Linked DNA regions of Homo sapiens: region 1 is linked to region 2. A link means that fine-mapping ties the variant in region 2 to the plasma level of a protein whose gene starts in the linked region. Region 2 holds a variant in brackets. A gene starts in the other region. All regions are shown on their reverse strands. Region 1 holds the start of PLA2G7 (phospholipase A2 group VII). Region 2 has its middle 7.1 kb from the start of CEACAM16-AS1.

Evidence for each region. PIP is the posterior inclusion probability: the model's chance that the variant is causal. Protein levels are from antibody-based Olink assays in UK Biobank. Linkage for the fine-mapping came from a reference panel and not from the study's own genotypes, which makes the PIPs less certain.
Region 1: PLA2G7 starts here. The variant in region 2 is fine-mapped to the plasma level of the PLA2G7 protein (UK Biobank, PIP above 0.99).

The regions. Positions count from the first base shown.
Region 1 is chr6:46,732,250-46,737,623 of GRCh38, reverse strand. PLA2G7 (phospholipase A2 group VII) reads left to right here and starts at 2,249. Exons shown (of 12, transcript NM_005084.4): 1 at 2,249-2,444.
Region 2 is chr19:44,729,612-44,734,985 of GRCh38, reverse strand. No RefSeq gene overlaps it. Among named protein-coding and RNA genes, the nearest start is that of CEACAM16-AS1, 7.1 kb to the right of the region's middle. The variant CTT/T (reference allele first, on the strand shown) is at 2,391.

The DNA of each region.
Region 1 (5,374 bases), not on the chromosome of region 2:
AGCGCATGGCAAGGCACAGTGGCTCACACCTGTAACCCTGGCACTTTGAGAGGCTGAGGCAGGAAGATCGCTTGAGCCTAGGAGTTCAAGACCAACCTGGGCAACATAGTGAGACACTGTCTCTACAAAAAATAAAAATAAAAAATTTAGCCAGGTGTGGTGATATGTGTCTGTGATCCTAGCTACTTGGGAAGCTGAGGTAGGAGGATTGCTTGAGCCTGGGAGGTAAAGGCGGCAGTGAGCTGTGATCATGCCACTGCACTTCAGCCTGAGTGACAGAGTGAGACCATATCTCCAGAAAAGAAAAAAAAAAGAAAGAAAGAAAAGAAAAGAAAAAGAAATTGAGCACATTATTACAATTTAATATCTTGATTGAAGGGAAGAGGTGAGACATCAGTTTCATTCATATTAAAGAGGAAATAGGTACTGTTATGTCAATGGGAAATGAGAGGAGGAATTAAATGTAGGAAACAGAATAACAAAGAACCAACTCATAAAAAACTAAAACAACCCATATCAGACACACCTTATAATCTGTATGTCTGTGTTGACTTATCCTCTTGGAATGTGAGGAATATTCTTTATTAATTTTACTTACTGGGTTGCCAGATATAATACAGGAAGCCCAGTTAAATCTGAATTTCAGATAAACAACAAATAACTTTTTAGTATATGTCCCAAATATTGCATGGGGCATATTTATACTAAAAAACTATTTATTGTTTATCTGACATTCAAATTTCACCAGATGTTCTGCATTTTTATTTGCTAAATCTGGGCACTCTTCACTGGGCATCTTCTCAGGGCACTAACCTGCCAAATGCCAACTGCTGTGGGGCTGCTCAGAGAATATGACCTAATGACAATGGGAGATGACATGTTGCTGGCAATGAGAGAAGTGAATAAAATGTTGCATACTTGTTTTCAGGAGCTGTTCTCAAAGCTTACCACCTTTTTAGTGTGGGATTAGGTCTTCAACTTCAACTTTGTCTTCACCTTTGTCTTAAGGTCAAAAGAAGACGTTAGAGATGTCTTTGGTAGGGCATAATGTATCCTTTTAGATTGATATTTGTGGGCCATTTGTTTTACAGGGGGTTAGTCCAGGAAGTACAAGACAATGTCATTAGGCGGATAGAGTTCCATTTAAATTAAAAATAAAATCTATTGTTAGGTTTAAATGAGTCACTGCTTCATTAAGCTATCAATATTAGATAACACATATTGAATGAATGTTTCCCATAGGCCAAGCTCTGTCCCAAGCATTTCACATGTATTTGCATTTCGTGCTCACAAACTGCCTCTGACTGACTGATTTTGATTTTCTTGATTTTATGGATGAGGAGACCGAGAAGCAGAGATGATGAACTTCCCCAAGGTCACACCACTCATAAGTGGGAGAAACAAGCTAAAATTCAGGCCATCTTACTGCAGAATACTCAAAATCAAAATAAGCAAAATTTCATCTCCAGTTCTGGCACCTCACCAAAAACCAAAACACGATTTAAAAATATAAAATTTTAATAACACCACACATAAATTTCAAACTACTTTCCCTAAGTTTCTAGCTGAAGTTTTAAATGAGTGTGTTTTTAATTTATTAGAAAGTGGATTGAAGAGAAAACATTGGAAGATGAAGGAAGGCGTTTCAGTTAAACCCCAAATAACTCTGTGTTACACTGAGCTATGAAACGGCTCCTTCTAGCTCCATTTCTCCTCAGACCTAAGTGCTATTCCTGATTGTCCTTCATTGTCATTTCCAGGGAGAAATGACACCAGCACAGTGGCAGGCCTTCCAATCTGGAGCACGGTCCACACAACTTCCGAATTGGTGTTCAGTGTAAAGTGTATCGGAGTGCGGAAAATGCGCAGGGCATTGCCAACTATAGATGCTCGGAGTAATTCAGTGTATTCAGAGAACACGGTGAAACAAGGAAAACCGGCCTGACTGGGGGGTGAATTCAGCAGGGAGTAAATCTGATCGGCATCAGGTCTGCGGAAAGGAGCTGGTGAGCACGACACCACCCAGGCATTGCCTGGCTCTCTCCGCGGCGGGCTAAGTTAACCGCGGGTCCAGGTGCGGGCCATGGTCTTGGGGAGGGTGCTGGGTGCGCTCGAGCAGGCTAGCGTCGGGAGCCGCCGCTGCTAGTGAGAGGCCGGGGCCACACACGCTCCTCCCCGGTACCTCCTCCAGCATCACCAGGGGAGGAGAGGGTCGGGGCCACAAGGCCGCGCTAGGCGGACCCAGGACACAGCCCGCGCGCAGCCCACCCGCCCGCCGCCTGCCAGAGCTGCTCGGCCCGCAGCCAGGGGGACAGCGGCTGGTCGGAGGCTCGCAGTGCTGTCGGCGAGAAGCAGTCGGGTTTGGAGCGCTTGGGTCGCGTTGGTGCGCGGTGGAACGCGCCCAGGGACCCCAGTTCCCGCGAGCAGCTCCGCGCCGCGCCTGAGTGAGGAGGGGCCCCGGGGGCGAGGCGGGAGTGGGAGGAAGGGCACGGTCGCCGCGCTGGAGGTCGGGACCCCGGAGCGGCGACCGGCCGGGGTGGGCTCGCTGAGTCGCACCCGCTCTGCTGGCCGGTCCTGGGCTCACAGTCCCTGCAGCCCTCGGAAACAGCGCTAGGATCCTTGCGGGGAGAGGGAGAGGATGACGGTATTAGACACCAGTTCTTCCAAACCTTTTCCCGAAAGGAAGCAACCCTAAGAGCTCAGAGCTGGGGGGAGAATCAGGACAGGCAGGGAACACATGGAGTTTTCTTTTCTTTTTTTTCTCTCTCTCTCTCTTTCTTTCGTTCCTTCTTTCTTTCTTTTGAGGCGGAGTCTCATTTTGTCGCCAGGCTGGAGTGCAGAGGCGCGATCTCGACTCACTGCAACCTCTGTCTCCCGGGTTCAAGCAATTCTCCTGCCTCAACTTCCCGAGTAGCTGGGACTGCTGGCGTGCCGTATCACGCTCGGCTAATTTTTTTGAATTTTTAGTAGAGACGGGGTTTCGCTGTGTTCGCCACAATGGTCTCGATCTCCTGACCTCGTGATTCGCCCGCCTCCGCCTCCCAAAATGCTGGGATTACAGGCATGAGCCACCGCGCCCGCCCCGGAGTTTTCTTATCTGTAGATCTCCTACAGGGACAATCTCTCTCTCCGTCTCTCTCTCTCTCTCTCTCTCTCTCTCTCTCTCTCTCTCTCTCTCTCTCTCTCTCTCTCTCTCTCTCTCTCTCTCACACACACACACACCACTACACACCTCTCACTCTGCCTCCTCTCTCTCTCTCCCTCCGCTCTCTCTCTCACACACCCTTCTCCCTCTCTCCCTCTCTCTCACTCTCCCTTTGAGGAGTATTGCGTTTTTGGAGCCCAGTTATGCGTGGCTGCTGTAAGAACAAAACAAAGCACTCTTTGTCCTACCTGGAGCATCCCCCTGCCGGCCAGATAAGATCACAGCTGTGTCACCAAGTCAAGGGAGAGGCTCATTTTTAAAAAATTAAGCAAAATCAGAAAACAGAGAACACTGTCTTCCTCATCATCTCCTGGAGCTTGTAAGAGAAATTTCTGTCACCAAAAACGAAAAGTTCGGGCTTTTATTCATGCCTGTGGTTCTTGGGATTACTGCAGTGGTGATGAGGAAGGAGAGGTGCGTATGGCTCATAAATGGCAGCTTGCCACCTTTAAAAGGCACACGGATTCAGATTTGGGATGTGTTAACAAATCAGGCTTGCACAAATTACTTTTGATCCAAATGAGAATGCTGAGCTGGGAGACTGGTATATGGGTAGGAGCTGGAAAATGTATCCCCTGAGGTGTTGGCAATCCCAAGAGGCTCAGCACGAAACCTTGAGCTTACATTGAATTCAGAGATCTGAGCATTAAGCACTGGCCTGATCAAGAAGAAGCAGATGGCCTTCTGGTCACGAGGCACTGGTGAGCCTCCATCACCCAGGCAGATTCCCTCACAGAGGAATTCTGCTGGCCCTGCAGAAAGTGGTGAGACAGCGCACCACCTTGGCATTTTCCAGCAGGCCTACTTCAGCTCCTTGCACTTGGGCACTGAAAGTGCTTTCCCCTCCCCAGATATTTGTGCACCAGAAGCTGCTGCTGGCCATGTGGTGATGTCTCAATGTCTTTCTTCATTGAACTGGGCCCTTCATACCCAAGGCTGGCACCATAGTCTGTGACTGCCTACTGTACAGCCAGCAAGACTGAAGGAGTTGCAGCATTAGGAGTGTTGTGAATCTGGTTCAGCCACTCATTTTACAGTTGAGAAATCCCTTCTGAGGTGTGGAAGGGCTTGCTTAGCACCGCAGGACTTTTCCCTCAGACAGAACCTGGGACAGCTGGGTCCTCATTTCCTCTCCATTGTGTCTCTGTCCCCTTTGCACTTTTGTTGTGAGGAACATACATGGGCCTAAACACATTCCCTCACTCTCACCTTTGCACATGAATATGACTTACCACACTCTTTGAAGCTCTGTCAGCACAGAACATTAAGAAAAGTGCTAACTGGGTACCTGAGCAGCTGGAGTGGGAGCCCCTGGGAAAGTCAGTTTAGGAGTCCCCTTTATCTTCCTTTTCCTGATACCCAAGAAGATGGCTATTTCCTGGAAAGGAAGGTGGATATTGGATTATTTACACTCTGATTCCTCTTAAGCCTAATTTTTTTTCAAGATTCGTGATAATAAGCCTGACTGACGTCTCAAGATGTTGAGAAATTTCCATAAAATAAAAGCATTGAAGAGAAAGTACTGAGTGAAGGGAAATTGAAGAGAAACATTCAGTTCTAAAATTGTATTGTTTCAGAATATGATTCTGGGTTCTTACTGACTTTCTTCATGACGCCAGCCACCTGTTAGACACATTATGTGCCCTCACTGTCATTTTGCTCAATTTTATGGGCGTGACTCAACACTAACAGAAACAGGCTAATACATACAAACATGTAGGTTTTTGGTTTTTAAAGAAACTTAGCAGTTGAGGAGAAATAAAAAGTCTATTGTAAGAGTAGATGCTCATTGAATTAAGTGGGCTAGTTGATTCCTAGTAGAACTTGTATTCATTCATTCATTCACTTCAAAAAATATTTATTGATCAGATCCTAAGTGCCAGGTACTGAGTACAGCACAGTTAGTAAGATAGATATGCTCTCTGCTCTCACAGTGCTCACATTCTAGAATTGAGGGATGAACAGGGTGAATTCATATAATGAGAAGAAAAGCAAGCAGATTGCTGCAGTATAGTGGTGTGTGTGTGTGTGTGTGTGTGTGTGTGTGTGTATGTGTGTGTTGGATATATGGGAGGGGCCTAGCTTCTTGGATTGGATTGTGAGGAGAGACTTCTCTGCAAGAAGGCCTGGAGATGAAACCTCAGGAAGATGGGCAGACGTCCCTGCAGA
Region 2 (5,374 bases):
AGAGAATCTTAAGGACAAAGAATTATAGACCCTTACAATCTTAGGTGCAAAGAATTCTAGGCTGGGCACGGTGGCTCATGCCTGTAATCCTAGCACTTTGGGAGGCTGAAACAGGAGGATCACTTGAGCCCAGGAATTTGGGACCAGCCTGGACAACAAAGTGAGACCCTGCCTGTGGTCCCAGCTACTTAAGAGACCGAGGTGGGAGAATTTCTTGAGCTTGGGAGATTGAGGCTGTAGTGAGCTATGATCATGCCGCTGCACTCCAGCCTGGGCAACACAGTGAGACCCTGTCTCAAAAAGAAGAAGGAGAAGGAGAAGGGGAAGGGGAAGGGGAAGGGGAAGGGGAAGGGGAAGGAGAAGGAGAAGAGGAGGAGGAGGAGGGAGGAAGAGGAAGAGGAAGGAGAAGGAGAGGAATTCTAGAATCCTAGATTTTTAGGAACAAGGGATTCCAGAACCCTATGCCTCAGTTTCCCCATTTGGATAATGGGGATAATAGAAGTCTGTAACTCATCATGTAGGTAATGTTATATGTGTACACCTGGCATGAAACTTGGCACACAGTGAGTGCTCAGTAAATGTGATTTCTGTCATGGCAAAAATTTTATACATTTTGTTCTCCCTTGTATCATTAGGACCTAGGGCAGAATAGAGGCCCAGTAAGTATTTACTGAATGAATGAATCTTAGTATCAAAGGATCAAGTAAACCTGCAGTTACAGAACTTTAGGAGCAAAAATGGGTAGAATTTAAGAAATTAGGCCAGGCACGGTGGCTCACACCTATAATCCCAGCACTTTGGGAGGCCAAGGTGGGCGGATCACCTGAGGTCAGGAGTTCAAGACCAGCCTGACCAACATGGAGAAATTCCATCTCTACTAAAAATACAAAATTAGCTCGGCATGGTGGTGCATGGCTGTCATCCCAGCTACTCGGGAGGCTGAGGCAGGAGAATCACTTGAACCCAGGAGGAGGAAGTTGCATTGGGCTGAGATTGCACCATTGCACTCCAGCCTTGGCAACAAGAGCAAAACTCTGTCTCAAAAATAAATAAATAAATAAATAAAATAAAAATAAAAATTAAGAATGATCGAAGTCTTGGATAAAGAAAAATGTGGTATGTATACACCGTGGAATACTATGCAGCCATGAAAAGGAATAAGATCATGTGCTTTGCAGGGATACAGATGGAGCTGGAAGCCATTTATCCTCAGCAAACTAACGCAGGAACAGAAAACCAAACACCACGTGTTCTCACTTATAAGTGGGAGCTGAATGATGAGAACACATGGACACAGGAAGGGGAACAACACAAACTGAGGCCTGTTGGGATGGGGAGGGGTGCAGAGGGAGGGAGAGCATTAGGAAGAATAGCTAATGCATGACGGGCTTCATACCTAGGCGATGGGTTGATGGGTGCAGCAAACCACCGTGGCACATTTTTACTATGTAACAAACCTGCACATCCTGCACATATACCCTGGAACTTGAAAAAAAAAGAAGAATGATCAGAGTCTTAAGAACTAAAGAGAGATAAAAATGCATCCTTGGCAAACTTAAGATTCACTATTTATTTATTTATTTATTTATTTATTTATTTATTTTTATTGAGATGGAGTCTCACTCTGTCACCCAGGCTGGAGTGTAGTGGTGCGGTCTTGGCTTATGCCAACCTCTGTCCCCCAGGTGCAAGCGATTCTCATGCCTCAGCCTCCCGAGTAGCTGGGACTACAGGTGCACGCTAGCTAATTTTTTTGTGTTTTTTAATAGAGACAGGGTTTCGTCCTGTTGGCCAGGCTGTTCTTGAACTCCTGACCTCAGGTGATCCGTCCACCTTAGCCTCCCAAAGTGCTGGGATTACAGGCATGAGTCACTACGCACGGCCAGATTCACTATCTTAAATTTATATTTATTATTAATTATTATTATTATTTTTAGATATGGGGTCTTGCTCTGTCACCCAGGCTGGAGTGCAGTGATGTGATCATAGCTCACTACAGCTCCAAACAGGAGGCTCAAGTGATCCACCTGCCTGGGCCTCCCAAAGCACTGGGACTACAGGCAGGCACCACCTTGCCTGCCCTTTATCTTAAACTTTTAGAAACAAGGAAGCTGCCCGGCCAATGCCGTCTAGCTCAGAGTGAGAACAGAGAAGAGAAAGGAGCGGGCGCCCAGGTCTTCTCACCCTCCCTGTGTCCCCTCCCCTGGGTGGCTCTTATAGCCACTTCTCATTTCCATGGCCTTTCCTCAGCCTCCCCACCTCCTCCTGCCTGGTCCTCCCTTTGCACAGGATGGAACCTGAGGAAGCTGCTCCTTCCTGAGCCCCATCATCGGGAGAAAGTCCAGGATCCTGCCGCAGAGGACCCACACCAGCTACCGTCTTCCTTCAGC[CTT/T]ATCCCCCGGCTCTGTCCCACCCACACCCCTTTCTGCCTCTTAGCCAAGGCCTCTCTCGCACCATCCTCCTTCCATACATACCCCTTTCACTTCAACGTCAAAACTATACCTCTTTCTTGGAGATCCAAACCAGGTCACACAGTAAGTGCTCAATAAACACATCAGGCCCCAGCTCTGACAGCCTTTCCTCCAGGAAGCCCTCCCTGATTTCTCTTTCTAGTCTGAGTCAGGAGCCCCCTCTGGGCCCCCCTGACCATGCCAGCCCCAACATTCTGGGATGCGACTGTCTGGGGACAGGCTAGTCTTCCCCATGTGTGAGCCTGTGAGGGCAGGCCTGGGGCTGTCACTGCTGTGTGTATCCAGCACTGCCCCAAACAGCAGAGACCTCTGGGCACGGGGCTGTCAAGCCCATCTGACTGTTCACAAGGCTTGCTTACAATGCTCTTAATTGTGTGCCCTCGATGCCATTTCTCTGGGATCCCAGGGATGGCTCCACTCACTTTTCCAGGTCAGCAAAGGAGTGCCCGATGGTTCAAAGGGATGCAGGTGAGGCCCTGACAGTGCTCAGCCCACCACCTGCCCTCCGGAGACATAGGAGCCATTGTCAGCTGCTCAGGTCTCTGTCTCCAGTTCCCCTCTAAAAGCTCATAAAGCCCCTCTGTTTCACTTGTAAACGTTTCTTGCATGAATCCACAGTGAGACCTGAGACCTCAGCACCTGCCCTCAGTGATCATTCCCTCCTTCCCAACTCCCTCATCATTTACCCAGGCACAGAGAAGTTAGGAGCTTTGTCTAAGGTCACACAGCCAATAAGGGGGAAGAGGAGCTAAATGTGTGTGTGTGTGTGTGTGTGTGTGTGTGTTTTGAGACGGGGTCTCACTCTGTCACCCAGGCTGGAGTGCAGTGGTGCATTCACGACTCACTGCAGCCTCCACCTCCCGGGGCTCAGGTGATCCTTCCCCCTCAGCCTCCTGAGTAGCTGGGACTACAAGCATGTGCCACCATGCCCTGCTAGTTTTTGCATTTTTTTTTTTTTTTTTTTGTAGAGACAGGGTCTTGCCAGGAAGCCCAGACTGGTCTTGAACTCCCGGGCTCCAGTGATCCTCCTGCCTCAGCCTCCCAAAGTGCTGGGATTACAGTCCTGAACCACTGCACCTGGCCAGGAGTTTAGATTTTAAAAATCAACTGTACTGAGGTATAATTTACATGCAATAAAATACACCTGTTTCAAATGTGTGTGTTTGGCGGGGCATGGTGGCGCATGCCTATAATCCCAGCTACTTGGGAGGCTGAGGCACTTGAATCCAGGAGGTGGAGATTGCAGTGAGCTGTGATCTTGCCACCGAACTCCTGCCTGGGTGACAGAGCGAGACTCTCTCAAAAATAAATCAATTAAATTAATTAAAATTAAATTAAAGAAGGAGTATGCTAGATGAGTTCTGATAAACATGTACAATCATTTAATCATATCCTGATCAAGATATAGAACATTTCTAGTGCCCGGAAAAGGTCCACTGTGCCCTCCTTGCAGTCATCTCCTCCCCTTGTCCCCAGACACTGGCAGCCACTAATCTGCTTTTTCTTTTCTTTTTTTTTTTTTGAGATGGAGTCTCACTCTATTGCCAGGCTGGAGTGCAGTGGCACGGTCTCGGCTCACTGCAACCTCTGCCTCCCTGGTTCAAGTGATTCTCCTGCCTCAGCCTCCCTAGTAGCTGGGACTACAGGCGCCCGCCACCATGCCTGGCTAATTTTTGAATTTTTAGTAGAGACGGGGTTTCACCATGTTGGCCAGGATGGTCTCGATCTATTGACCTTGTGATCTGCCCGCCTCGGCCTCCCAAAGTGCTGGGATTACAGGCGTGAGCCACCGCGCCCGGCCTCTTTTCTTTTCTTTTTCTTTTTCTTTTTTCTTTTTTTTTTTTTTGAGACATTTTGCTCTGTCACCCAGGCTGGAGTGCAGGGGCGCGATCTCTGCTTGCTGCAGCCTCTGCCTCCCGGGTTCAAGTGATTCTTCTGCCTCAGCCTCCCCAGTAGCTGGGATTACAGGCAGGCACCACCATGTCCGGCTAATTTTTGTATTTTTAGTAGAGACGAGGTTTCACCATGTTGGCCAGGCTGGTCTTGAATTCCTGACCTCAAGTGATCCACCCACCTCAGCCTCCCAAAGTTCTGGGATTACAGGCATGAGCCACCACACTCAGCTATATCTGCCTTTTTTTTTTTTTTTTGAGATGGGGTCTTGCTCTGTCACCCAGGCTGGAGTGCAGTGGCACGATCTCGGCTTACTGCAACCTCCACCTCCCGGGTTCCAGCGATTCTCCTGCCTTGGCCTCCTGAGTAGCTGGTATTACAGGTGCCTGCCACCACGCCCGGCTAATTTTTGTATTTTTAGTAGAGGTGGGGTTTCACCATGTTGCCCAGGCTGGTCTCAAACTCCTGACCTCAAGTGATCCACCTGCCTCAGCCTCCCAAAGTACTGGGATTACAGGTGTGAGCCGCCACACCCAGCTGCTTTTTATCCCTATAAATTTGCTTTTCCAGGATGACATGTAAATGGGATTACAGAGTATGTAGTCCTTAAAAAAAAATCATTGACAAATTTACCTACAGTAAAATTCACTCTTTTCATCATACATTTCTTTTCTTTCTTTCTTTCTTTCTTTTTTTTTTTGAGGAATGTTCTCACTCTGTCACCCAGGCTGGAGTGCAGCGGTGCGATCACCACTCACTGCAGCCTCAACCTTTCAGGCTCTAGCGATCGTCCCGCCTCAGCTTCCTCATTAGCTGGAACTACAAGTGCACGCCACCAAGCCCAGCTAATTTTTGTATTTATGGTAGAGATGGGGTCTCACTATGTTGCCCAGGCTGGTCTTCAACTCCTGGCCTCTTGCTTTGGCCTCTCGAAGTGCCTGTGGGGCATGCAGTTCTTAAAGCTTTGACAGGCTCATGTGGCTGTGTAGTCACCACCAGAATCAAAATAT